Linked DNA regions of Homo sapiens. The protein of the gene in region 1 binds, or shares a complex with, the protein of each later gene. Each region holds a gene or a part of one and is shown in the gene's direction. Other genes may lie near its edges.

Region 1 (9,840 bases):
CATTAGGGAGAGTGTCTTTTCTCTATCTAACAGGAGTCAATGGGCGCTCATATTATCACTGAGACTACAAACTAGGATGGTGTGGGAAGGAGAGCCTAAGGGTTGGAATTCATTTGAACTCTCCTCAGTCTCACTAAATTGAGAGGCAAGTAATTGATACAGGCTCTCTACTCATGCTGGGACTGCTGCCTATTTGTCTTCCCAAAAGCTGATGAGGAAAGACTGGCACTAAGAATCTTTTAATTTTATATAAAATAAGGATGGGGCTAACTGAAGTGAAGCAGGTGAGGGTTATTAGAGAAAATATAACATTGTCACTTACTGAGAAATCCTAGATTTAGTGCTAAACTTTTTTGCCAATGGCTGTGTAACAGAGAATGCCCTAGTAAAAGGTCTTGTAAAAATAGTACCGAATCAGTATCTTTTTTTCTTTCTTTGAAAAAATTATGTAGTGTAAGATAAAGCCCTTTATTTAGTATATGTACTAAAGTACTTATTTTAATCTTTATGTGTATATATATTACTGTATATAATATAAAAATCAAATAACCCATATTCATTTCTTATCTGTCTTTCCATATGAATCTGCTCTAATAGTAAAATGAATAACATCAGTTTATTCTAGAAGAGGTTTTAAATAATTACAAATATTAGCAAATAACATCAAAAGTTATCTAGCCTTTATTGCTCATGTGCCAGTAACCTTCTGACCTAGAAGAGGGCTTTGTGGGGAGGAGAAGGGGAAAGGCGCTGTAGAGAAGTATGTAGAATCCAGTAGTTACCTTTAAGCCAAGAGGGAAGTAATTGCCAGTGGTAAACTACTGGTCTGAGGGGAAAAGATCTATGCCCAGAATATCACCATCTCAAGTTAGTGGCTTTATACAAGGATGAAATAATATAGAAAAAAATGAGATGATATGGTATCACAAACAATCAGAACCAAAGGAACCTTAAAGATTATTTTATAATTTTTTTTTTTTTTTTTTTTTTTTGGAGACGGAGTTTCACTTTTGTTGCCCAGGCTGGAATGCAATGGTGCAATCTTGGCTCACTGCAACCTCCACCTCCCGGGTTCAAGCAATTCTCCTGCCTCAGCCTCCTGAGTAGCTGGGATTATAGGCATGTGCCACCACACCCTGTTAATTTTGTATTTTTAGTAGAGACGGGGTTTCTCCATGTTGGTCAGGCCGGTCTCCAACTTCCAACCTCAGGTGATCTGCCCGCCTCGGCCTCATAAAGTGCTGGGATTACAGGCATGAACCACTGCACCCAGCCCATTTTATAACTTTTATGACCTTAATTGGGAACCTGAAGTACAGATGGGCTGTTGCCTAGGATCACGCCGATAGTTGGGAATAGAATTCAGATTTCCTGACTTCTGGTCCAGTGTTTTGGGGTTTGTTTCAGTTTTTTTTTTTGTTTTGTTTTTTGTTTTTTTTAGATTTTAAAAAATTGTGATAAAATACACATACAGTTTACCATCTTAACCATTTTTAGTGTATGGTTCCGTAGTGTTAAGTACATTTACATTGTTGCACAGTCAACCTCCAGAACTCTTCATCTTGCAAAACCGAAACTCTACATCCATTAAACAGCCAGGCGTGGTGGCACACGCCTGTAGTTCCAGCTGCTTGGGAGGCTGAGGCAGGAGGATTGCTTGAGACCAGGAGCTCAAGGCTGCAATGAGCTGTGATTGCACCACTGCTCTCCAGCCTGGGATACAGAGCAAGACCCTATCTTTAAAAAATAATAATAATAATAAAAACATGTTCATTAAACAACTCCCCATTCCCTCTCTTCCCAACCCCTGGCAACTACCATTTTACTTTTTGTCTCTATAAATTTGACTACTCTAGGTGTCAGTATTGTTGTTGCTTTGTTTGTTTGTTTGTTTCTTCCTTTTTGTGGAGAACGGGGTCTCACTATATTGCTCAGGCAGGTCTCGAACTCCTGGGCTCAAGCTATCCTCCCGCCTCTGCCTCCCTGAGAGCTGGGATTATAGGCGTGAGCCACCGCGCCCAGCCTGTTTGTTTGTTTTTAACTCGTTGTAGCATTACATCTAAAAGTAATGTGGAAATTACTTGTTCTCCTTTTGATTTTTTTGGCATGAAATACACACTTCATTCTGACTTTTTTTGGTGTTGATGCTTTCTTATAATATAAATCAGCTTATAGTGCCGTTTCTTTACTTGTATTTTTTCCTCTGCCTTGAGTACGTTTTCTCTATCTGTATACCTAGTCCCATTCCCCACTCTACCCCCAACTCCCTGAATCTACTTTGTGAACTCATGTTTCAAGGTTCAGCTCAGAAGTCACTTCTTTCAAGTTTTCTCCCGCACCCACAGCAGAGTTAGGAGCTCCTTCTTATCTACTCCTGGTGCTGGTAGAGTTTTGTTTTGTTTTATTTTGTTTTGTTTTGTTTTTCTTGAGACAGGGTCTCGCTCTGTCGCCCAGGCTGGAGTGCAGTGGCACACAATCTCAGCTCACTGCAACCTCTATCTCTCAGGTTCAAGCGATTCTGCTGCCTCAGCCTCCCGAGTAGCTGGGATTACAGGCATGCGCCACCACACCCAGCTAATTTTTTTTGTGTGTATTTTTAGTAGAGATGGGGTTTCACCATGTTGGCCAGGCTAGTCTTGAACTCCTGACCTCAAATGATCTGCCCGCCTCAGCCTCCCAAAGTGCTGGGATTACAGGCGTGAGCCACCAGGCCTGGCTGAGCATTTTGCTTTTTACACTATTTTGGGACTGGTTTCTGCCCTGCCCATTAGACCAAGCTTCTTAAGGGTAAGTGCTTTATCTTCTTATCTCTGATGCATTCCATGTTTGAGCCTATAGTTTTTATTATGCCCAAGAGGGTACTTTTTAAGAAGAAAGAGATTAAACAATCCTTTCCTCTACCCCCTAGCCAGAGAAACCTTTCTGAGACATAGATGTGATCATATCTGTCTCTAGTTTAAAACCCTTCACTGCCTCCCAGGACCCTTGGGATCAAGTCCAAACTCCTTTACGTGGCTCGCCTAATCTTTCATGATCAGGCACCCTTTTGTAGCCTCATCTCATGCTATTTTCTCAAATTCTGTGCCCAAGCTTTGCCTGTGCACTTGTAGGCCACGTTCTGTCTCTCTCCTTGGAGCTTGTTTATGCTGTTTCCTTTGCCTAAAACACTTTTCTCCCATTGCCCTTATCCCCCAAGGCCTCCTTCTCCTAGTAAACTCCTAATTCATTCTTTTGTACCCAGTTTTAGGTATAATTTCCTCCAGGAGGCCTTCGTTTATGCATGCATGCACACACACGCACACACACCCTTCCTGTGCTCTTCATAACACATTGTAATTACCTTTGTCATCATACCATTTATACTTTCCTGTTTGCTTGTGTTCTTTACTTGTCTATGAACTATTGGGGGCCTGAGGTTTATGTATTTGTTAATTGTATCCCTAGTACCTAGAACCTAGTTAAGTGTCCAGTAAGTATTTCTTGAATAAACTATTGTTTTCCAAACATGTTTTCAGAATAGTGTTCAGCAGGATGTTAAAAGGATGCCATGAAAAAGGAACCCCATAGTTAAATAGGGAAATGCCTTGTACATTTCTAAGAGGGAACATAGACTATACTGTCCTATATTGTACTGTACTGCCCTGTCCTGGATGACAGTGGTTCTCAAACGCCAGTGTGCCCAACCCCAGAAATTTTAGATTCTGTGAATGGAGCCCAGAAATCCGTGGTTTAAAAATGCCCCAGGTTATTCTCATGTGAGGCCATATTTGGAAACCACTGGTACATAATGATTATAAAGATGCTAAAATAAATAAATAGTTGTGATCACAAAGGTATAGTTAAAATATGTAATGCATTTGGAATAGTGCCTAGCACGTACTATTTATGCAATATTACTGGTAACTGCTGCTGCTGTTGTCATTATTGTTATATGTGACCATGAAACACATGTTTTGTGGCATATTTATTCACATTTCACAAAACTATTTTGGGAAAGGCTGAATTAAGCAAGTACTTCAGTGCCACCTATATGCTGATGACATCCAGATCTCTATCTCTAGCCCTGACTTCTCCTGACCTCAAGATTTGACTCTTCAGTTGCCTACTGGTTATTTTTATATGGGTGTCCTGAAAACACCTCAAAAATATCTGAAGATCCCAAACCTGTACCTCCTTTTATATTTCTTATTGGCATCACCATATCCTTGTCAGCCAAGCTAGCAATCTTGTAATCAACTTTAGTTTGTCTTTCTTCTTCAGCCCTCATATCCAGTCAGTCACCCAATCCTACTTGTCCCACTTCAGAAGTGTCCCTCAAATCCATCCCTCTATTTCTGGAATTAGTCGTGACCTTTCCATATGCTGCTCCTTTTACCTAACCCTTGTTTTTCTGCCTGGCAAATGACTGTCCATGCTTAAATGTCACTCCTCCACTTCCCTCCTCCCCCGATCCAGCCACTGCCAACCTGTGAAGCCTTCTCCAACTAGCCTGAGCAGAAGAACTTGTTTTCTCATCTTGTCCCAGAGCACTTTGTACATAACTTTATTATAGCACTTATCACTTTGTACTTTGTGCTTAACCTCCTAGCCTCATCTTACATCCTCTCCCACTAGCGTGTGAGCTATTTAAGAGCAGATGCCACGGGTGAGTCATCCTCATATCTCCCGGCACTTGTTGGGTGCTTGGCACGTAGTAGGGGCTCAATAAATGTTTTCAATGAATTTAAACAACTAAGAGAGTCTAAAACTAGCATAATTATTTTCTCTTTTTGCAGAGATTAGTACTGAAGAGCAGCTAAGGCGCCTGCAAGAGGAGAAGCTTTGCAAAATCTGTATGGATAGAAATATTGCTATCGTTTTTGTTCCTTGTGGACATCTAGTCACTTGTAAACAATGTGCTGAAGCAGTTGACAAGTGTCCCATGTGCTACACAGTCATTACTTTCAAGCAAAAAATTTTTATGTCTTAATCTAACTCTATAGTAGGCATGTTATGTTGTTCTTATTACCCTGATTGAATGTGTGATGTGAACTGACTTTAAGTAATCAGGATTGAATTCCATTAGCATTTGCTACCAAGTAGGAAAAAAAATGTACATGGCAGTGTTTTAGTTGGCAATATAATCTTTGAATTTCTTGATTTTTCAGGGTATTAGCTGTATTATCCATTTTTTTTACTGTTATTTAATTGAAACCATAGACTAAGAATAAGAAGCATCATACTATAACTGAACACAATGTGTATTCATAGTATACTGATTTAATTTCTAAGTGTAAGTGAATTAATCATCTGGATTTTTTATTCTTTTCAGATAGGCTTAACAAATGGAGCTTTCTGTATATAAATGTGGAGATTAGAGTTAATCTCCCCAATCACATAATTTGTTTTGTGTGAAAAAGGAATAAATTGTTCCATGCTGGTGGAAAGATAGAGATTGTTTTTAGAGGTTGGTTGTTGTGTTTTAGGATTCTGTCCATTTTCTTTTAAAGTTATAAACACGTACTTGTGCGAATTATTTTTTTAAAGTGATTTGCCATTTTTGAAAGCGTATTTAATGATAGAATACTATCGAGCCAACATGTACTGACATGGAAAGATGTCAAAGATATGTTAAGTGTAAAATGCAAGTGGCAAAACACTATGTATAGTCTGAGCCAGATCAAAGTATGTATGTTTTTAATATGCATAGAACAAAAGATTTGGAAAGATATACACCAAACTGTTAAATGTGGTTTCTCTTCGGGGAGGGGGGGATTGGGGGAGGGGCCCCAGAGGGGTTTTATAGGGGCCTTTTCACTTTCTACTTTTTTCATTTTGTTCTGTTCGAATTTTTTATAAGTATGTATTACTTTTGTAATCAGAATTTTTAGAAAGTATTTTGCTGATTTAAAGGCTTAGGCATGTTCAAACGCCTGCAAAACTACTTATCACTCAGCTTTAGTTTTTCTAATCCAAGAAGGCAGGGCAGTTAACCTTTTTGGTGCCAATGTGAAATGTAAATGATTTTATGTTTTTCCTGCTTTGTGGATGAAAAATATTTCTGAGTGGTAGTTTTTTGACAGGTAGACCATGTCTTATCTTGTTTCAAAATAAGTATTTCTGATTTTGTAAAATGAAATATAAAATATGTCTCAGATCTTCCAATTAATTAGTAAGGATTCATCCTTAATCCTTGCTAGTTTAAGCCTGCCTAAGTCACTTTACTAAAAGATCTTTGTTAACTCAGTATTTTAAACATCTGTCAGCTTATGTAGGTAAAAGTAGAAGCATGTTTGTACACTGCTTGTAGTTATAGTGACAGCTTTCCATGTTGAGATTCTCATATCATCTTGTATCTTAAAGTTTCATGTGAGTTTTTACCGTTAGGATGATTAAGATGTATATAGGACAAAATGTTAAGTCTTTCCTCTACCTACATTTGTTTTCTTGGCTAGTAATAGTAGTAGATACTTCTGAAATAAATGTTCTCTCAAGATCCTTAAAACCTCTTGGAAATTATAAAAATATTGGCAAGAAAAGAAGAATAGTTGTTTAAATATTTTTTAAAAAACACTTGAATAAGAATCAGTAGGGTATAAACTAGAAGTTTAAAAATGCTTCATAGAACGTCCAGGGTTTACATTACAAGATTCTCACAACAAACCTATTGTAGAGGTGAGTAAGGCATGTTACTACAGAGGAAAGTTTGAGAGTAAAACTGTAAAAAATTATATTTTTGTTGTACTTTCTAAGAGAAAGAGTATTGTTATGTTCTCCTAACTTCTGTTGATTACTACTTTAAGTGATATTCATTTAAAACATTGCAAATTTATTTTATTTATTTAATTTTCTTTTTGAGATGGAGTCTTGCTTGTCACCCAGGCTGGAGTGCAGTGGAGTGATCTCTGCTCACTGCAACCTCCGCCTTCTGGGTTCAAGCGATTCTCGTGCCTCAGCTTCCTGAGTAGCTGGAATTACAGGCAGGTGCCACCATGCCCGACTAATTTTTTTTTATTTTTAGTAGAGACGGGGTTTCACCATGTTGGCCAGGCTGGTATCAAACTCCTGACCTCAAGAGATCCACTCGCCTTGCCCTCCCAAAGTGCTGGGATTACAGGCTTGAGCCACCACGCCCGGCTAAAACATTGCAAATTTAAATGAGAGTTTTAAAAATTAAATAATGACTGCCCTGTTTCTGTTTTAGTATGTAAATCCTCAGTTCTTCACCTTTGCACTGTCTGCCACTTAGTTTGGTTATATAGTCATTAACTTGAATTTGGTCTGTATAGTCTAGACTTTAAATTTAAAGTTTTCTACAAGGGGAGAAAAGTGTTAAAATTTTTAAAATATGTTTTCCAGGACACTTCACTTCCAAGTCAGGTAGGTAGTTCAATCTAGTTGTTAGCCAAGGACTCAAGGACTGAATTGTTTTAACATAAGGCTTTTCCTGTTCTGGGAGCCGCACTTCATTAAAATTCTTCTAAAACTTGTATGTTTAGAGTTAAGCAAGACTTTTTTTCTTCCTCTCCATGAGTTGTGAAATTTAATGCACAACGCTGATGTGGCTAACAAGTTTATTTTAAGAATTGTTTAGAAATGCTGTTGCTTCAGGTTCTTAAAATCACTCAGCACTCCAACTTCTAATCAAATTTTTGGAGACTTAACAGCATTTGTCTGTGTTTGAACTATAAAAAGCACCGGATCTTTTCCATCTAATTCCGCAAAAATTGATCATTTGCAAAGTCAAAACTATAGCCATATCCAAATCTTTTCCCCCTCCCAAGAGTTCTCAGTGTCTACATGTAGACTATTCCTTTTCTGTATAAAGTTCACTCTAGGATTTCAAGTCACCACTTATTTTACATTTTAGTCATGCAAAGATTCAAGTAGTTTTGCAATAAGTACTTATCTTTATTTGTAATAATTTAGTCTGCTGATCAAAAGCATTGTCTTAATTTTTGAGAACTGGTTTTAGCATTTACAAACTAAATTCCAGTTAATTAATTAATAGCTTTATATTGCCTTTCCTGCTACATTTGGTTTTTTCCCCTGTCCCTTTGATTACGGGCTAAGGTAGGGTAGAGTGGGTGTAGTGAGTGTATATAATGTGATTTGGCCCTGTGTATTATGATATTTTGTTATTTTTGTTGTTATATTATTTACATTTCAGTAGTTGTTTTTTGTGTTTCCATTTTAGTGGATAAAATTTGTATTTTGAACTATGAATGGAGACTACCGCCCCAGCATTAGTTTCACATGATATACCCTTTAAACCCGAATCATTGTTTTATTTCCTGATTACACAGGTGTTGAATGGGGAAAGGGGCTAGTATATCAGTAGGATATACTATGGGATGTATATATATCATTGCTGTTAGAGAAATGAAATAAAATGGGGCTGGGCTCAGTGGCTCACGCCTGTAATCCCAGCACTTTGGGAGGCTGAGGCAGGTGGATCACGAGGTCAGGAGATCGAGACCATCCTGGCTAACACGGTGAAACCCCGTCTCTACTAAAAAACAGAAAATTAGCCGGGCGTGGTGGCGGGCGCCTGTAGTCCCAGCTACTCGGGAGGCTGAGGCAGGAGAATGGTGTGAACCCGGGAGGCAGAGCTTGCAGTGAGCCGAGATCTCGCCACTGCACTCCAGCCTGGGCAACAGAGCAAGACTCTGTCTCAAAAAAAAAAAAAAAAGAAATAAGAAAATGGGAAGCAATATTTGACATAGTTCTTTTTAGTCAAATCTACTTGTTAAAAAAAGGGTAGCAGTTTATTCATCTGTGAAAGGAAAATAATACTTATCTTACAAGGTTGCAAGAGCTCAAGGAGACCATGTATGTAAAGTTCCTGCTGTAAATATGAACTCCCATCCTAATACCCTTTTACCTCTCTGTGGGTTTGTCTTGACCTGGAAATTTGGGCTAAAACTTAGAAAAAATTCTTACATGATAACTCAGTGATGCTTACTCATAGTTTTTGGTGTTTCTCATAGATAAGATATAAATCAGCTGGGCGCGGTGGCTCATGCCTGTAATCCCAGCACTTTGGGAGGCCGAGGCGGGCAGATCACCTGAGGTCGGGAGGTCGAGACCAGCCTGACCAACATGGAGAAACCCCGTCTCTACTAAAAATACAAAATTAGCTGGGCGTGGTGGCTCATGCCTGTAATCCCAGCTACTTGGGAGGCTGAGGCAGGAGAATCGCTTGAACCCAGGAGGCGGAGGTTGTGGTGAGCGAAGATCGTGCCATTGCACTCCAGCCTGGGCAACAAGAGCAAAACTCTGTCTCAAAAAAAAAAAAAGATATAAATCACAATAAATAAATAGGTCAATACAAATGTTAGCCAGGCGTGGTGGCACATGCCCATAGTCGCAGCTACTCTGGAGGCAGAGGCAGGAGGATCACTTGAGCCCATGAATTTGAGGCAGCAGTGAGCTATGATTGTGCCACTGTACTCCAGTCTGGGTGACAGAGTGAGACCCCATCTCTAAATAAATAGGTCAAACCCTTAAAAATATTTAAATTCTTAAAAAATTGAAAAGATTATTCTTCTCAAATTTAGTTGAGCTTTCTAAGAGAAGCAATTGGCTTTTTCCCACTTCAATAATCATTTTCAGTTTGACTCATACAGTTAACACAATGTGAATTTCTTCCTCAGCATAACAGAGTTATAGAATGACAGGGCTGGAAGTGACCTTAGAGAGTATCCAGTTCTTTCATTTTACAGGTGAGGCAACTGAGACTCAAAGGTGATGTAATTTGTGCAAAGATTATAGCTAATTAGTAGCAGAGCCCTGACTGGGACATAGTTTGAAGGTGAAAAACTTCACCAAGCTACCTTTCTTGAAAGGTCCAAATGTTTA
Region 2 (9,150 bases), on another chromosome or scaffold:
GTAGTTAATTTCATTTCAAAGTAGTTATTCTTTGTTTTCCATACAATTAAAAGTAATTCTTTCTGTTCCAAGGAATGACATCTCGGTCTGGTACAGATGTCGATGCAGCAAACCTCAGGGAAACATTCAGAAACTTGAAATATGAAGTCAGGAATAAAAATGATCTTACACGTGAAGAAATTGTGGAATTGATGCGTGATGGTAAGAAGAAACAATTAGAATGAACTTCATTGTACAATTAATTTTATACTATGGTCTAGCAATAATTATATGTATAATAAAATATGAGAATTGTGGAATTATACTGTACATAACCCTAATCTTACATACTTTAGTAAGAAGTTTAAAAAAAGTTATTTATGCCAACTTCCTAAAATGGTTTGAGATGTGTTGCCGTGCCCCAGGTTAGGTTAAGATGACCTCTTAGTTTTAGTCTCAGTTTCTTCATCATGTTCCCATACAGTATATCTGAAGTTGTTGAATAAAGTCATGGATTTTTTTTCCTTTTATTTGCAAATGTCTTTACAGTTTCTAAAGAAGATCACAGCAAAAGGAGCAGTTTTGTTTGTGTGCTTCTGAGCCATGGTGAAGAAGGAATAATTTTTGGAACAAATGGACCTGTTGACCTGAAAAAAATAACAAACTTTTTCAGAGGGGATCGTTGTAGAAGTCTAACTGGAAAACCCAAACTTTTCATTATTCAGGTAATGTCTAACTGAGTGATTTGGTTATTGACGATTAAGCAGGGGTTACTATTCTCAACTGTAAATTATCCAAAGGATAATTTTTTTCCTGAAGCTAATGAACTATTGTTACTTTTCATTTATTTACCACTTAAAAGATATAGAGTAAATTTTAATTTTATACTTATATCAAAAAGACTCAGCATAATTAACATCCTTTTTTTTTTTTTTTTTTTTTTTTTTAGACAGAGTCTTGCTCTGTCGCCCAGGCTGGAGTACAGTGGCGCGATCTCCGCTCACTGCAAGCTCTGCCTCCTGGGTTCACGCCATTCTCCTGCCTCAGCCTCCTGAGTAGCTGGGACTACAGGCGCCTGCCACCAGGCCCAGCTAATTTTTAAATTTTTTTTTAATAGAGACAGGGTTTCACCATGTTAGCCAGGATGGTCTCGATCTCCTGACCTCAAGTCATCCGCCCGCCTTGGCCTCCCAAATTGCTGGGATTAAAGGCGTGAGCCACCGCGCCCGGCCAATTAACATCCATTTTTACATAGCATTTCAATTTTTTAGAACTAAGTTATGTGTTCACACACAAATTTTTATAAATAAATATTTATTTTCTAACACCCAGGCCTGCCGTGGTACAGAACTGGACTGTGGCATTGAGACAGACAGTGGTGTTGATGATGACATGGCGTGTCATAAAATACCAGTGGAGGCCGACTTCTTGTATGCATACTCCACAGCACCTGGTGAGAACGTTACACATAATGAATGTTACATGTGGATTTTAAATGAATTAACTGTGACTGATCATAGAATTATACAATGAAAAGTGTGTTTCAGAGACTGTCAAGATTTTGATATCCCTAAAGATATCAAAACTTGTCTATATTTTAGGGAACCTTCATCAAAGAGAAGTCTCAAAAAGTTGTCTTTAGCCAAAAGTTTGGCTAGAAAATATGCATATATAGCCAGGCACAGTGACTCACGCCTGTAATCCTAGCGCTTTGGGAGGCCGAGGCAGGTGGATCACTTGAGGTCAGGAGTTCAAAACCAGCCTGGCCAACCTCATCTCTACTAAAAATACAGAAAAATTAGCTGGGCATGGTGGCACACGCCTGTAATCCCAGCTACTGGGGAGGCTGAGGCAGGAGAATCGCTTGAACCTGGGAAGCAAAGGTTGCAGTGAGCCAAGATCGCACCACTGCACTTCAGCCTGGGCGACAGAGTGAGACTCCGTCTCAAAGGAAAAAAAGAAAAGAAAATATGCATATGTAGAGTAGACTAGCACGATGTCATTCATTGGACTTTATCAGGTAGATCTCCGCTACTAATATCAGGTAGAATATTACGTGGCAACAGAGGCCAAGTCAGAGCTTCCCCTGCATCTTAGAGAAGAAGAGAGGTACGTTTCTCAGGAGTTATTTGAAAGGTAGTAAATAAAAAAGATAAACATGACTAGTATACAAGAGGATAGATGTGGAGTGGGAGAAAAGAAGGTAAAAAACGATACATGAATGTGCCGTTAACCTCCACGTTTTTACTGTTCTGCTGCACACGTCATCATCTAAATAAACATTTGTGGATTATACCACCATTTACTCACACAGCTAAGGGTGTCGGAGAGTTTGGAAACTTTAGGTAAATGTATTCTTAAGCAGTGTTGCATTTTAAAATATGCTCAATATGGTTTATCTTATCCTCTAGGCATCTTTCCAAGCAAAGTACCTCTAAGTTAAAAGCAATGGGTCTAATAGTTAACCTAGAAAAAAAAGTATGATAAATATACTATTTTCCCTTTTTGGACCAATACTTGGTAGTGTGTTTATTATACTTTATTCAGATGCTCTGTAGACAAGTAGGACACTCAAAGCAATTTGTTTCTTGGCTAAGTCAGTATTAAAATAAGGTGAAATCTGATTGGAACACTGTGCTACTTACAATGATCCTTTTTATACATCTTTACTTTTGCATCTTACCTTCTGCGTGTTTGCTCTTCTTGCCTATTGAAAGGGGAGTCCAGAAAGTAAAACTTTCAATAATTCAGTGTTCGTGAAGCTGGTCCCCGGCCAGCTTTGCTGAAAGCAGGGGGTGTACGCATAGCACACATTCGTCCTTCAGCATCATTTCTTCTGAAACCAAAGGTGTCTTTTTTTTTTTATTTGTATGACTAATAAGACTTATGTAAGTTTATGCTTATTTTTGCCTTTATGACTACATAATAATTTATAGAATCAACTAAAATCAGCTATCCATGGTATTTTGCTTGTATTTTGCCTTTTAGGTTATTATTCTTGGCGAAATTCAAAGGATGGCTCCTGGTTCATCCAGTCGCTTTGTGCCATGCTGAAACAGTATGCCGACAAGCTTGAATTTATGCACATTCTTACCCGGGTTAACCGAAAGGTGGCAACAGAATTTGAGTCCTTTTCCTTTGACGCTACTTTTCATGCAAAGAAACAGATTCCATGTATTGTTTCCATGCTCACAAAAGAACTCTATTTTTATCACTAAAGAAATGGTTGGTTGGTGGTTTTTTTTAGTTTGTATGCCAAGTGAGAAGATGGTATATTTGGTACTGTATTTCCCTCTCATTTTGACCTACTCTCATGCTGCAGAGGGTACTTTAAGACATACTCCTTCCATCAAATAGAACCACTATGAAGCTACCTCAAACTTCCAGTCAGGTAGTTGCAATTGAATTAAATTAGGAATAAATAAAAATGGATACTGGTGCAGTCATTATGAGAGGCAATGATTGTTAATTTACAGCTTTCATGATTAGCAAGTTACAGTGATGCTGTGCTATGAATTTTCAAGTAATTGTGAAAAAGTTAAACATTGAAGTAATGAATTTTTATGATATTCCCCCCACTTAAGACTGTGTATTCTAGTTTTGTCAAACTGTAGAAATGATGATGTGGAAGAACTTAGGCATCTGTGGGCATGGTCAAAGGCTCAAACCTTTATTTTAGAATTGATATACACGGATGACTTAACTGCATTTTTAGACCATTTATCTGGGATTATGGTTTTGTGATGTTTGTCCTGAACACTTTTGTTGTAAAAAAATAATAATAATGTTTAATATTGAGAAAGAAACTAATATTTTATGTGAGAGAAAGTGTGAGCAAACTAACTTGACTTTTAAGGCTAAAACTTAACATTCATAGAGGGGTGGAGTTTTAACTGTAAGGTGCTACAATGCCCCTGGATCTACCAGCATAAATATCTTCTGATTTGTCCCTATGCATATCAGTTGAGCTTCATATACCAGCAATATATCTGAAGAGCTATTATATAAAAACCCCAAACTGTTGATTATTAGCCAGGTAATGTGAATAAATTCTATAGGAACATATGAAAATACAACTTAAATAATAAACAGTGGAATATAAGGAAAGCAATAAATGAATGGGCTGAGCTGCCTGTAACTTGAGAGTAGATGGTTTGAGCCTGAGCAGAGACATGACTCAGCCTGTTCCATGAAGGCAGAGCCATGGACCACGCAGGAAGGGCCTACAGCCCATTTCTCCATACGCACTGGTATGTGTGGATGATGCTGCCAGGGCGCCATCGCCAAGTAAGAAAGTGAAGCAAATCAGAAACTTGTGAAGTGGAAATGTTCTAAAGGTGGTGAGGCAATAAAAATCATAGTACTCTTTGTAGCAAAATTCTTAAGTATGTTATTTTCTGTTGAAGTTTACAATCAAAGGAAAATAGTAATGTTTTATACTGTTTACTGAAAGAAAAAGACCTATGAGCACATAGGACTCTAGACGGCATCCAGCCGGAGGCCAGAGCTGAGCCCTCAGCCCGGGAGGCAGGCTCCAGGCCTCAGCAGGTGCGGAGCCGTCACTGCACCAAGTCTCACTGGCTGTCAGTATGACATTTCACGGGAGATTTCTTGTTGCTCAAAAAATGAGCTCGCATTTGTCAATGACAGTTTCTTTTTTCTTACTAGACCTGTAACTTTTGTAAATACACATAGCATGTAATGGTATCTTAAAGTGTGTTTCTATGTGACAATTTTGTACAAATTTGTTATTTTCCATTTTTATTTCAAAATATACATTCAAACTTAAAATTACCAATGTCTTTGAGTTTTTTGTTGCTGTTGTTTTTGATGTTGTGCCACTAATTGGAAGTTAAAATGTTTTTAATCAGAAGCTTGATTTGGAAGAGTCAAAGAGGAAGCACCAGAACCCTAGCCTAGTTTTTTGAGGTGGTGGCAGTTAGATCAGGGCAGACAGATCGCTTATGCTTCCCAAGTCCTCGCAGAAGTTCCTGACCCTGAAATGACCACAATGCCAGGAAGATACTTTGTTTGCATAGATCTCAGGCCTTAAATATGACCATATGTGTGAATTTGAAACTTTTTCCACAAGATAAGTGTCTAATGGGAAGAACAACCTAAGAGGATATACAACAAGCCGTTGATGTTTACTGATGGCCTCCTCTGGGCGCTGGGATTTTGACAGAGGAATTTGCTGTCTTTTTACTTCATATGCTTAGAAAAGGAATATAGGAAAGTGGGGTTGTGGGTGGTTTTAAATTTCTTCCAATATTTCTGTAATGAAAATATATTACTTTTAAATCAGAAACAAAATAAATTGTCCTAACTAGGAAAAGGAGACTTCTGTTTCTGAGGAGTAGAGAGTAGCATAAATGAGTTCTTTAAGGCCATATGAAAGCGGTGGTTCTATAGTGTTGAGGAAAATCTGGCTTATTCTAGTCTCCCTGTTAAGTAAAGAGGTTTCAGATACAAAGGAAAAGACCAGCAACCCAATAGGAAAATGAGCCAAGGACATGAACAAACAGTTCACAGAAAAAAGAAAACCCAAATGTCCCTTAAATTCAATAAACAGCTTGATCTGCATCATAATAAGAGAAATGCACATTAAAGTATCTGTCGTCTATCAGACCGGCAAAAACCCCAGTTTGGTGACATATTCTGTTGGCAAGATGTGGGAAATGTATACTCTCCCGTTGGTGGGAGTATGATACGGTAAAATACTCTGTGGAGGGGAATCTGACAATACCTATCAAATTATTCTTTGAAGTAGCAGTCCCATTTCTTGGAATCCAGCCTACCCATACACCTGTGTGTGTACAAAATTATATATGAGCTTTTCATCACAACGTTGTTTTGGTGTTAAAAAATGGCAGCAACTCAGCTGTGAAGTGTTCCGGGAAGTCAGGGACCCCGAACGGAGGGACCTGCTGAGGCTCTGACAGAGGAACATAAATTGTGAAGATTTCATGAACCTTTATCACTTCCCCAGTCAATACTCTTGTGGTTTCCTATGCCTGTTTTTGCTTTGATCTCTTGGTCCCGTCATCTTCGTAAGCTGAGGATGTCTGTCGCCTCAGGACCCTGTGATGATTGTGTTACCTGCACAAATTGTTCATAGGGCATGTGTGTTTGAACAGTGTGAAATCTGGGCACCTTAAGAATAGGATAATAGCGATTTTTCAGGGAACAAAGGAAATAGCCTTAAAGTCTGGCTGCCTGTGGGCCGGGCAGAACAGAGCCATATTTCTCTTATTACCAAAAATGGGTAAGAGAAATATCACTGAATTCTTTCTCCAGTAAGGAATATTAATAATTAACAGCCCTGGGAAAAGAATGCATTCTGGGGAGGGGAGGGGGCCTCTGAAATGGCCGCTCTGGGGGTGTCTGCCTTATGCAGTTGCAGATAAGGGATGAAACACACCCTGGCCTCCTGCAACGCCCCCAGGCTTGCTAGGATTAGGAAATTCCAGCCTGGCAAATTCTAGTCAGACCAGTTCTCTGCTCTTGAACCCTGTTAAGATGTTTATCAATGACAATGTGAGCACAGTGGGACATAGAAGTTCATTAGTGATTCCAGTTTTGCCCTGACCTTGTGATCTCACCCTGACCTTCTGCCTTGTGATCTTTCGTCACCCTTGAAGCATGTGATCTCTGTGACCCACACCTTATTTGTACACTCCCTCCCCTTTGAAAATTGCTAATAAAAACTTGCTGGTTTTACGGCTCAGGGGGCATCACGGAACCTGCCGACATGTGATGTCTCCCCCGGACACCCAGCTTTAAAATTTCTCTCTTGTACTCTTTCCCTTTATTTCTAGACCGGCCAACACTTAGAGAAATAGAAAAGAACCTATGTGAAATATCGGGGGCTGGTTTCCCCTGATAGTGAAGGAGACAGGTTAGATACACTGGAGCTTCCACACAGGAGAGAGGGAAGGAGCTGGAGAAGAAGGTGAGTTGGAAGATTTGGGGGTTTTGTTTTTAAGTGAGAGAGCTTTGAATAGGTTTAATGCTGATGGTGGGGATCCAGTTAAGAGAAACACTGAAAATTAACTAGAGGGAAAGGTAACTGACAGTATAGAGTTCCTAAGAACCCAAGCAGTAAATTCTAGCCTAGCTGGGGGTGGAGTGTGAAGAAGTGAAGAACCTTTTTTATTTTTTTTTTAATGGGCTGGGTGTGAAGCTACATTTGTAGTTTTGTGGCAGGAAGTTCCCTTACTGTAACTTCTATATTTTCTGTGAAGCAGAAGACAAGAACTCTGTTCAAAGTTAGGGAGATGATAGATTGAGGGCTAGAAGAGTAAGGCAGGCTTGAAACAATCATTGTCACGAATGGGAGTTGACCAGAGATTAGTAACGTTGCTGGGCCATGTGTAGGGGCCCATTTGAAACCAGCGATTACAAATGTGCAGTGGTTCCAGGCCGTGCGGCTGTGTGAATCTACCTGATGACCCTCGGCTGCTTGGGTACTGCCATGGATAGCGCATGTGTTGGCTTTGTCCAGCTTTGGGCTTTTTCCCACATTGATTTTAAAAAGACAGGAGCCACAGATTTTGGAGTACTGCAAAATGACTTTCCAAATTGATGAACCATGGACTCCAAGCTGGATAGACACAGAAATGAAAAGAAGGGACTAATAGGGAATAAGACGTGTGATCCATGGCCCGATGGCCCTGATGGACGTGAAGATCCACTGTTGTGGGAGGAGTGGAACACTAACACTGAATGATGGAGGCTGTGGTCAGAAACAGGTAAGTGATGGAGGCTGTGGTCAGAAACAGGTCAATGATGGAGGCTGTGGTCAGAAACAGGTCAATGATGGAGGCTGTGGTCAGAAACAGGTCAGTGATGGAGGCTGTGGTCAGAAACAGGTCAGTGATGGAGGCTGTGGTCAGAAACAGGTCAGTGATGGAGGCTGTGGACAGAAACAGGTCAGTGATGGAGGCTGTGGTCAGAAACAGGTCAGTGATGGAGGCTGTGGTCAGAAACAGGTCAGTGATGGAGGCCGTGGTCAGAAACAGGTTGAATTGGAGGGGCACACATTTGGTCATGAAAATGGTGGGACTAAGAAGAATGAAGTGGCATGCAAGAGACCATTATAGAAATGATGTGGAACTCAGGGTGAGGATGTTGGGTGTGTGCTCTTCTGTATGGACATTGACTTTATGCTAAAATGAGATTCACTATGTGGGAACAGTAATAAAATAATGTGGCTGGGCGTGGTGGCTCACACCTGTAATCCCAACACTTTGGGAGGCTGAGGCGGGCGGATAGCAAGGTCAGAGTTTGAGACCAGCCTGGCCAACATGGTGAAACACATCTGTACTAAAAATACAAAAATTAGCCGGGCATGGTGGTGGGCACCTGTAATCACAGCTACTGGAGAGGCTGAGGCAGGAGAATTGCTTGAATCCGGGAAGTAGAGGTTGCAGTGAGCCAAGACCATGCCTTTGCACTCCAGCCTGGGCGACAGAGCGAGACTCTGTCTCAAAAAAAAAGATAAGGTGACATAACTTAGTTGTGTTTACAAACTTTTGATTTTATGGATTTGAAAAAAATCCATCATTCATTTTTGCCAGATTTTTTAAAGCTATCACCCATTATTCATAACAAGAAAGACATTTTAACTCCCACCTCCTCATTTCCCTCTCAACCCCAAAATAAGTAGGGACATAATCCCAGATTAAAGGATAATACTTCCAAGGAAAGGCTTGTCACACATGCACACACACACATTCCTCAGGATCTAACATTTTGCAAGTTGAAACCGCATTCGGGAAGCAATACTCTAATCCACTAAAATAAAATTTCACTTAACACTTGAAATAAACTTGAACTCAAAAAATTTCTCTCCTTGGTGAGACTCAGGCAGTGAGAAGCAGCTGTGACTAGAAATGGCACTGATCTGTCCGTTAGAAACTTTTTAATAAAACATGCTTGTTGTGCCCTTTATTATGTCATCATTATCAGTAAGATGTCAGAACTTTCCATAGATTAAATAAATACTCCAATTTAAGTCATTTCTTTTCAGATTTGTCTGAATTTCAGTTGATCCAGAGCAAGAAAAAGTAAGTGTTCACATGTGAAAGTCTGTGGGTCCATTGCATAGACAATTAAGAAATAATAGATAACAGATTCAAGTCAAATGCAGTACGCATGTGGGTGTGTGGC
Region 3 (7,222 bases), on another chromosome or scaffold:
CCGTAAACCTGACATGCTTTTTTCCATCTTAGGGTCTTTTTACGTTCCGCTCCCTCTGCCTGGAAGCCTCCTTCTCTGCCTTCTAGAAGGTCACTGCCCCATAGTCATTCAGGTCTGGCTCAGACGTCACCTCCCCAGAGAGGTCTGCTTTTCTGACCACTTCATCTAGAGGCCCCCACCGCCCATCACGCTGTGTCCCATTACCATGGTGTGTTTTCTTCCTAGCACGTAGCGCTGTCTGAGATTGCCTTATTATTGTATTGTGTGTTTGAATTCTCTCTCTCCCTAGAAGGGAGGCTTCAAATAAGGAGCCTCTCTGTTTTCTCTTCTGTGTCCGCAGTACCCAGAATACTGCCAGACTGTTGCAAATGCTCAGCAGATATTTATTGAAAGAATGTATGTAGTGATTTAATGTACTGTAATCACATAATATCATATGTGGGTCCGGAAGACCTAAGTTCCCATTTATGTTAAGAGAGGCATTAATTTTGCTTTAAAATGAAACAGTTCAAGATTAGAACTAGACCCAATTTTGTGTTACTGTGAAGCCGTTTTTCTTCTTCTTTTTGAGACTGAGTCTCACTCTGTCATCCAGGCTGGAGTGCAGTGGTGTGATCTCAGCTCACTGCAACCTCCACCTCCTGCATTCAAGTGATTCTCCTGCCTCAGCCTCCTGAGTAGTTGGAATTACAGGTGCGCACCACCACGCCTGGCTAATTTTTGTATTTTTAGTAGAGACAGGATTTTGCCACATTGCCCAGGCTAGTCTCAAACTCCTGACCTCAAGTGATCCACCTGCCTCAGCCTCCCCAAGTGCTGGGATTACAGGCGTGAGCCACTGTGCCAGGTCAGCAGTTTTTCTTTTGGCGTTGCTTGTACTGAAAGTGTTAAATTTAAGCCTGGTGTCATGAGGAGCTGAGCAGAATTGTTGCCATTTCTACTTTTTTTTTTTTTTAATTTAGTTGTGACATACTTGGCTCAGCTAGCACTTACTGCCATTTCATCTTCCTTTTTTTTTTCATTTCCATTAGTAGGGTTTGGTTATACTGTCTATTTTCAAAGGCTATTAGAAGGCGTTAGTAGCTTTTCAGACCTTGTAGTAAAATTGTGTTAATAAAAATAAATAAATAAAAGTCACCCAGTGAAGACATAAATAAGTGTAGAGACACACCATGTTAATGGATTAGAAGACTCAACATAGTGACAATGTCTACTTTCCCCAAATTGATCTGTAGATTTAAAGCAGTTCCAATAAAAATCCCAACAAGACTTGTGGATATAAGTAAGCTGATTCTAAAATTTATATGAAAAGGCAAAGGAACTCAAATAGCCAAAACAATTTTGAAAAAGAGCAAGAAGATAAGGAGACTCACACTAGCCAATTTAAAGACTTACTATAAAGCTACAGTAATCAAGAATGTAGTATTGGTGGAGGGGTAGACACATCGATCACAGGAACAGAATAGAGTCTAGAAGTAGACCCACACAATTCAATGGAGAAAAGCTAGTCTTTTCAACAAATGGTGTTGGAATGATTGGATATTGGAATGAAAAAAAAAATGGACCTAAACCTCCTTCCTACCTTACACAGAAATTAATTCAAAATGGATCACAGATCTAAATGTAAAATATAAAACTATAAAACTTTTAGAAAAAAACATAGGTGCTCTTTGTAACTTGGGACTGGACAGAGAGTTCTTAAACATGACTCCAAAAGCATGAACCATGAAAGAGAAAAAATGGATTAAATGGACTTCATCTAAACTAAAACCTTTGCTCTGCAAAAGACACTACTGAGTGAAATGCTAAGTTACAAATAAAAAGAACTCTCAGAACACAATAGTTAAGAAAATAACCTAATTTAAAAATAGGCAAAAAACTTGCACTTCACCAAAGAGGATGAGTTGGTGCCAAATAAACACGTGAAAGATACTCAGTGTCGTTAGCCGTTAGGAAGTGCAGATTAAAGTCACGATGAGCTACCACTACCCACCTCTTAGAATATCTAAATTCAGAAAAAGACAATACCACATGGTGGCAAGGACGTGGAGCAGCCGGAACTCAACATTGGAAATGCAAATGGTTCAGCTGCTCTGGAAAACAGTTTGGCAGGTTCTTATAAAGTTAAACATATACTTACCATATGAGCCAGCCCTGTCACTCCTAGGTATTTACCCTGGATAAATGAAAAGTTACATTCATACAAAAACCTGTACATGAATGTTTATAGCATATTTCTTCATAGTTATAAGAAACGAAACAGCCCAAATGTCCTTCAGTGGATGAATGGATAAACAAACTTTACTACATCCGAACAATGGTATATTACTCTATGAAAGAGAGAGAGAGACTGTTGATGCACACAGGCTAACAACTTGGATGAGTCTTAGAGACATAATGTTGAGTGAAAGAAGCCAGTCTCAGGAGGTCATGTTTACTGCATCATTTCATTTATGTGACATTGTGTGACATTGTTTTGTTTTGTTTTGTTTTGTTTGGAGACAGAGTCTCACTCCGTCGCCCAGGCTGGAGTGCAGTGGTGTGCAATCTCGGCTCATGGCAACCTCTGCCTCTCAGGTTCAGGTGATTCTCGTGCCTCAGCCTCTTGAGTAGCTGGAATTACAGGTGTGCGCCACCACGCCCGGCTGATTTTTGTATTTTCAGTAGAGACAGGGTTTCGCCACATTGGCCAGGCTGGTCTCAAATTCCTGGCCTCAAGTGATGAGCCCCTCTTGGCCTCCTAAAGTGCTGGGATTACAGGCGTGAGCCACTGCACCTGGCGTTTAATATGACATTCTTAAAAAGACAAAGCCATAGCAGTGGAAAATAGGTTGCCAGGGATTAGGGGAGGGAGTGCGTTGGGAGTGGAGCTGCCCTGTATCCTGAGAGTGGTGGTAGTTACACACATCTCTACATGTGTCAACATTCACAGATGTGCGTGCCCCAGAAGCCAGTTTTACTCCATGTTAATGTAAAAATAAAACAAACTCCCACACCCTGCAGAAGTTGCTCCAGGGTGCAAAATGTAGAGCTGAAGCACCAAAATAGATAAAAGCAGAATAAAACCAATTATATGAAAAAAAGTGAAGTCACTCCTGTCAGTATATAACTAAACAGAAGCTACAATTTGCCACAAAAGCTAACCACAGGCTTTTTATATATATGATTGCAAAAGCCTGTTGAAGTGGTTTCCACATCCTTTCTGGAAGACTTAACAATAACTTTTAAGAAGTTGCACACAGTATCTGTGTGTGTTTTATTTCTTTTACAGATGATTCACTGTTGGCATATAGAAATGCTACTGATTTTTGTATGTTGATTCCATATCCTGCAACTTTTTTTTTTTTTTTTTTTTTTGAGATGGAGTCTTTTTTTGAGATGGAGTCTCGCTCTGTCACCCAGGCTGGAGTGCAGTTGCACGATCTCGGCTCACTGCAAGCTCCGCCTCCCGGGTTCATGCCATTCTCCTGCCTCAGCCTCCAGAGTAGCTGGGACTACAGGCGCCCGCCACCACACCCGGCTAGTTTTTTGTATTTTTAGTAGAGATAGGGTTTCACCATGTTAGCCAGGATGGTCTCGATCTTCTGACCTCATGATCCACCTGCCTCAGCCTCCCAAAGTGCTGGGATTACAGGCTTGAGCCACCGCGCCCGGCCCATATCCTGCCACTTTACTGAATTTGTTTAATCAGTTCTAATAGTTTTTTGGTGGAATCTAGGTTTTTCCAAATATAAGATTATATCGTCTGCAAACAAGGATCATTTAACATCTTCCTTGCCAGTTTGGATGCCCTCTATTTCTTTCTCTTATCTGGTTGCTCTAGCTTGTGTTTGTTTAATATTTCAATAAAGCTTTCAATACAATTTTTTTTTTTTTGAGACAGAATCTCACTCTTGTCGCCCAGGCTAGAGTGCAGTGGCATGATCTCAGCTCGCTGCAACCTCCGACTCCTGGGTTTAAGCGATTCTCCTGCCTCAGCCTCCCCAGTAGCTGGGATTACAGGCATGCACCACCATGCCTGGCTAATTTTTTTGTGTTTTTAACAGAGACAGAGATGGGGTTTCACCAGGTTGGCTAGGCCGGTCTCAAATTTCTGACATCAAATGGTCCACCCACCTCAGCTTCCCAAAGTGCTGGGATTACGGGCGTGAGCCACTGCACCCAGCCAATACAAATTTTATTTTCCTTGAAATTGAACTGTGGTTCTCCCAGTTATTCCAGTTTGCTGTAGTTCTGCATGGTGGTTCTGGGAGTGCCGTTGTGAACAAAGCGCAGTTTTCAGGTGGGAGGCCAGATTTGGGGCAAGCTTTCAGGGAGAGGCAGGGAATTGCACCTGGGCCTTGCATCAAAGTTGTTCCTGGGGCTTAAAAAGTACAGATGCTCAGGATGTACCCTAGGGAGATCTGGGAAATTCAGAAATTGTGTTTAGGCCGGGGATGGGGCCAGGGCCTGGACCGCTGTGTGAGCGTGTTTAAAGCTCTGCAGTGATTATGCTGAACAGCCTGGTTTGAGATCCTATGGGGTAGAATGGGCATTGCAGACAGGCAGGGATGCTGGAATCAGGGTGCCGTTGGGGTACATGAGAGGGCCATCAGCCAGTCCTGGGTAGGGTCATCCTGAAGGAAGACCTCCTGGAGGTGGTGACTCCTGAGCCAAAGAGTCCCGAAGGACCCGGAGAATTGGTAGGGAAGAAGAGGGAGGGTGTTCATGTGGAGGCAAAGAGCAGGGGATGGACAGGGCTGTAGGCATTTGGGACTGGGAGGGAAGGATGTGGCAGGGGAGATGGGAGAGGACATCGGGGTGGCATGAGGATGTCCTATAAACTAGCTCATAAACTCCGACTTAAAAGCCAGTCTCAGTTACTCTCCCTGGTACTTGGAGGTCCCAGTGCCAGAGAGAGTGACTGAGGCTAGCTTATAAGTCGGAGTTTCTCCAGGCTGGGTCTTAGGTCACCTGAAAGCATCACCCATGGGGAGCGGCCTGCACTGCAGATGTCCCGGGCCCTGCCCAGATCAGTCATTCTGAGGGTGGGGCCTGCAGCCTGCAGTGTTGGTAACCAATGCTCAAGGGATTTCTTTGTAGTGTGCATTTGGAGCCAGTGCAGTAAGAGGTGGGGTCCCCAGAGTTTCCTGCCAAGAGTCTGCGACATTTGTGTGTGTTTCACTAGGTTTCATAACGGCTCACTCCTGGAGGTCATTGCTGCGCCTTACATTTGGGAATGGTGGAGTCTCAGTTTTCCTGGGAAACAAGTTTGTAGACTAGCCATAAAAACAGCAAACCCTTCTGCAGGTGTCTGTTCATACAAACATTATTGTTTTCCAGAAGGAAGTGGAACCCTCTGTGTAGGGCTGCGGGCCTGCTAGGTTTTTGTTGCAGAAGGAATAGGTGAAGTGGGGACTACCCTGCAGACGCGGTGGCGTCTCACGGCTTCCTGGTGTCCTTCCCCAGGAGCAGCAGCCAAGCTGGACAGATGACCTGCCTCTCTGCCACCTCTCTGGGGTTGGCTCAGCCTCCAACCGCAGCTACTCTGCTGATGGCAAGGGCACTGAGAGCCACCCGCCAGAGGACAGCTGGCTCAAGTTCAGGTGTGTGTGCCAGCATTTCTGTGTTGGGCCCGGGGAGTTGGTTGGTTTGCAAGCAAGGAAAGACACCGACCTTGCAGCTTTCTCGTATGGGCTTGCCAGTGACATGTGGCCCGTGAGAGGTGGCCTCTGCTGCTGTCTTGCCAAGGGCCTGCTCTGATGGGGTAGCGTGAGCATGGGGAGGAGGGTATCCCAGAATGTCATAGCCAGAGTGAAATGATGGCTAAAGCAGGGGGACCCAGGAGGGCCCCTGAAGCTGCAGCTGCTGTCGCTTTAGTCTCCCCCAATTCCTTTCCCTTTCTCCCTCCACCTCCGTGAGACCCTGGTCTCAGGCCTCCCTCTGCCCTCTCCCTCTTCCAGGAGTGAGAACAACTGCTTCCTGTATGGGGTCTTCAACGGCTATGATGGCAACCGAGTGACCAACTTCGTGGCCCAGCGGCTGTCCGCAGAGCTCCTGCTGGGCCAGCTGAATGCCGAGCACGCCGAGGCCGATGTGCGGCGTGTGCTGCTGCAGGTAATGGTGCCGGGGCCAACAGTGACCCAGCCACATCATGTCCCCCACCCCAAGGCTTGGGCCCTGCACCTCTAGCATGTTGCCAGGGTTGGTGTGAAGATCCTGCCGGCCCCTTCACCCCAGTAGAGGAGCAGCTCCCAGCGTAGGCCCCCCCACCCAACAGGAGTCCAGGACCAGCCAGCGAGCAGCAGGCCTTCAATGGCTGGCAGAGGAGGTACTGCTGGAGACGGGGGGATTTAGGGATGGGAGCTTGGAGAGAGGTGTGAGGTGGGAGCAGGGCAAGGCCTGGTAGAAATGGGGTCATTTAGAGCTACCCCTTTCTTTCCTATGTGGTCAGGTGCTCAGCCTCCAGGTGCAGGAGCCATCCCTGGGCGTCCAGGAAGGACCTTGCCTCCCCTTTCTGAGGGGCCGCCGCCCTCATTGACTGGTTCCACCTTTCTGCTTGCGCTGTTGGCAGTTTTCCTCCTGGCATCTGCTTTCAGGAGCATGTCTCAGGCCCATTTCAGATGAGAAGATGGGCTTCTGTTCCCGGAGAGGGGTGGTGCCAGCCTTTTCCTGCCCTTCACGACCTCAGGCTCCATTGCCAGTGATTCTCAGCAGATCTCACACAGGGGGAGAAGGTGTCAGTGTCACCAGTGTCCTGGGGCTGGTGGGGTTTGACAGAAGCCTCCCAGAAAGAAGTTGTAGTAATCATACGAGCTGTCATAGGCCTGGCAGTTTCTCTGAGCAGTTGCCTTGCTGAGTGCCAGGTTGGACTGTCTTACCTAACCCCTGGAACAACACTTAACCTCCGTTGTGTGAGACTGAGGGGGCCAGAGGTCACACCAGCTGGGCCTACGCCAAGCCTTTGCTCTTAGCTTCCGCACTGTCTCCTGCCTCCCAGCCGTCTGCAGTGCTGCCTCTGCAGGGTGCACACCCCTTCGAGGCTGAAGGGCTTTGTCAAAGACATTGATCTGCAGGAAGCAGCCGGTGCCTTGCAGTGCTGGGCCAGAGGCAGGACTGACATGTGGAAAGCTCCATCACACAAGAACCTGCAGTGAAGACAGCAAAGCTGCTGCTCTGATTAATAGAGGACATTTTGGCACCAGTGACAGTGGTGTTTTGAACCAGCCTTTGCCCTGTCCTG

Evidence for each region.
Region 2: the proteins of XIAP (region 1) and CASP3 are in contact, whole or in part, in a crystal structure (PDB 1I3O), measured with the Homo sapiens proteins. Residues at the interface, in NP_001158.2 of Homo sapiens: Ala137, Leu140, Leu141, Gly144, Gln145, Val146, Val147, Asp148, Ile149, Ser150, Asp151, Thr152, Ile153, Tyr154, Asn226, Leu231, Gly232, Arg233, Asn234; in NP_001341706.1 of Homo sapiens: Tyr204, Trp206, Arg207, Asn208, Ser209, Lys210, Asp211, Trp214, Gln217, Lys242, Thr245, Glu246, Phe247, Glu248, Ser249, Phe250, Phe252, Thr255, Phe256.
Region 3: the proteins of XIAP (region 1) and TAB1 are in contact, whole or in part, in a crystal structure (PDB 2POP), measured with the Homo sapiens proteins. Residues at the interface, in NP_001158.2 of Homo sapiens: Phe33, Ala34, Ser38, Gly39, Pro41, Ser43, Ala44, Ser45, Thr46, Arg49, Tyr75, Ser78, Ala79, Val80, Gly81, Arg84, Phe92, Ile93, Gly95, Tyr97, Leu98; in NP_006107.1 of Homo sapiens: Glu99 (codon at 6,067), Ala100 (codon at 6,070), Arg103 (codon at 6,079), Thr201, Gln202, Leu203, Glu212, Asp213, Phe216, Arg217, Gln220, Arg241, Glu269, Glu271, Ile272, His273, Ala275, Gln276, Pro277.

What each region holds. Positions count from the first base shown.
Region 1 is NC_000023.11:123,902,213-123,912,052, forward strand, and holds part of XIAP (E3 ubiquitin-protein ligase XIAP), read left to right. Parts: intron 1-4,775; coding exon 4,776-4,969; 3' UTR 4,970-9,840.
Region 2 is NC_000004.12:184,623,319-184,632,468, reverse strand, and holds the end of CASP3 (caspase-3 isoform a preproprotein), read left to right. Parts: intron 1-72; coding exon 73-201; intron 202-528; coding exon 529-704; intron 705-1,311; coding exon 1,312-1,432; intron 1,433-2,967; coding exon 2,968-3,197; 3' UTR 3,198-4,773; downstream 4,774-9,150. UniProt on the Homo sapiens protein: Thiol protease that acts as a major effector caspase involved in the execution phase of apoptosis. Following cleavage and activation by initiator caspases (CASP8, CASP9 and/or CASP10), mediates execution of apoptosis by catalyzing cleavage of many proteins.
Region 3 is NC_000022.11:39,409,558-39,416,779, forward strand, and holds part of TAB1 (TGF-beta-activated kinase 1 and MAP3K7-binding protein 1), read left to right. Parts: intron 1-5,448; coding exon 5,449-5,585; intron 5,586-5,942; coding exon 5,943-6,096; intron 6,097-7,222. UniProt on the Homo sapiens protein: Key adapter protein that plays an essential role in JNK and NF-kappa-B activation and proinflammatory cytokines production in response to stimulation with TLRs and cytokines.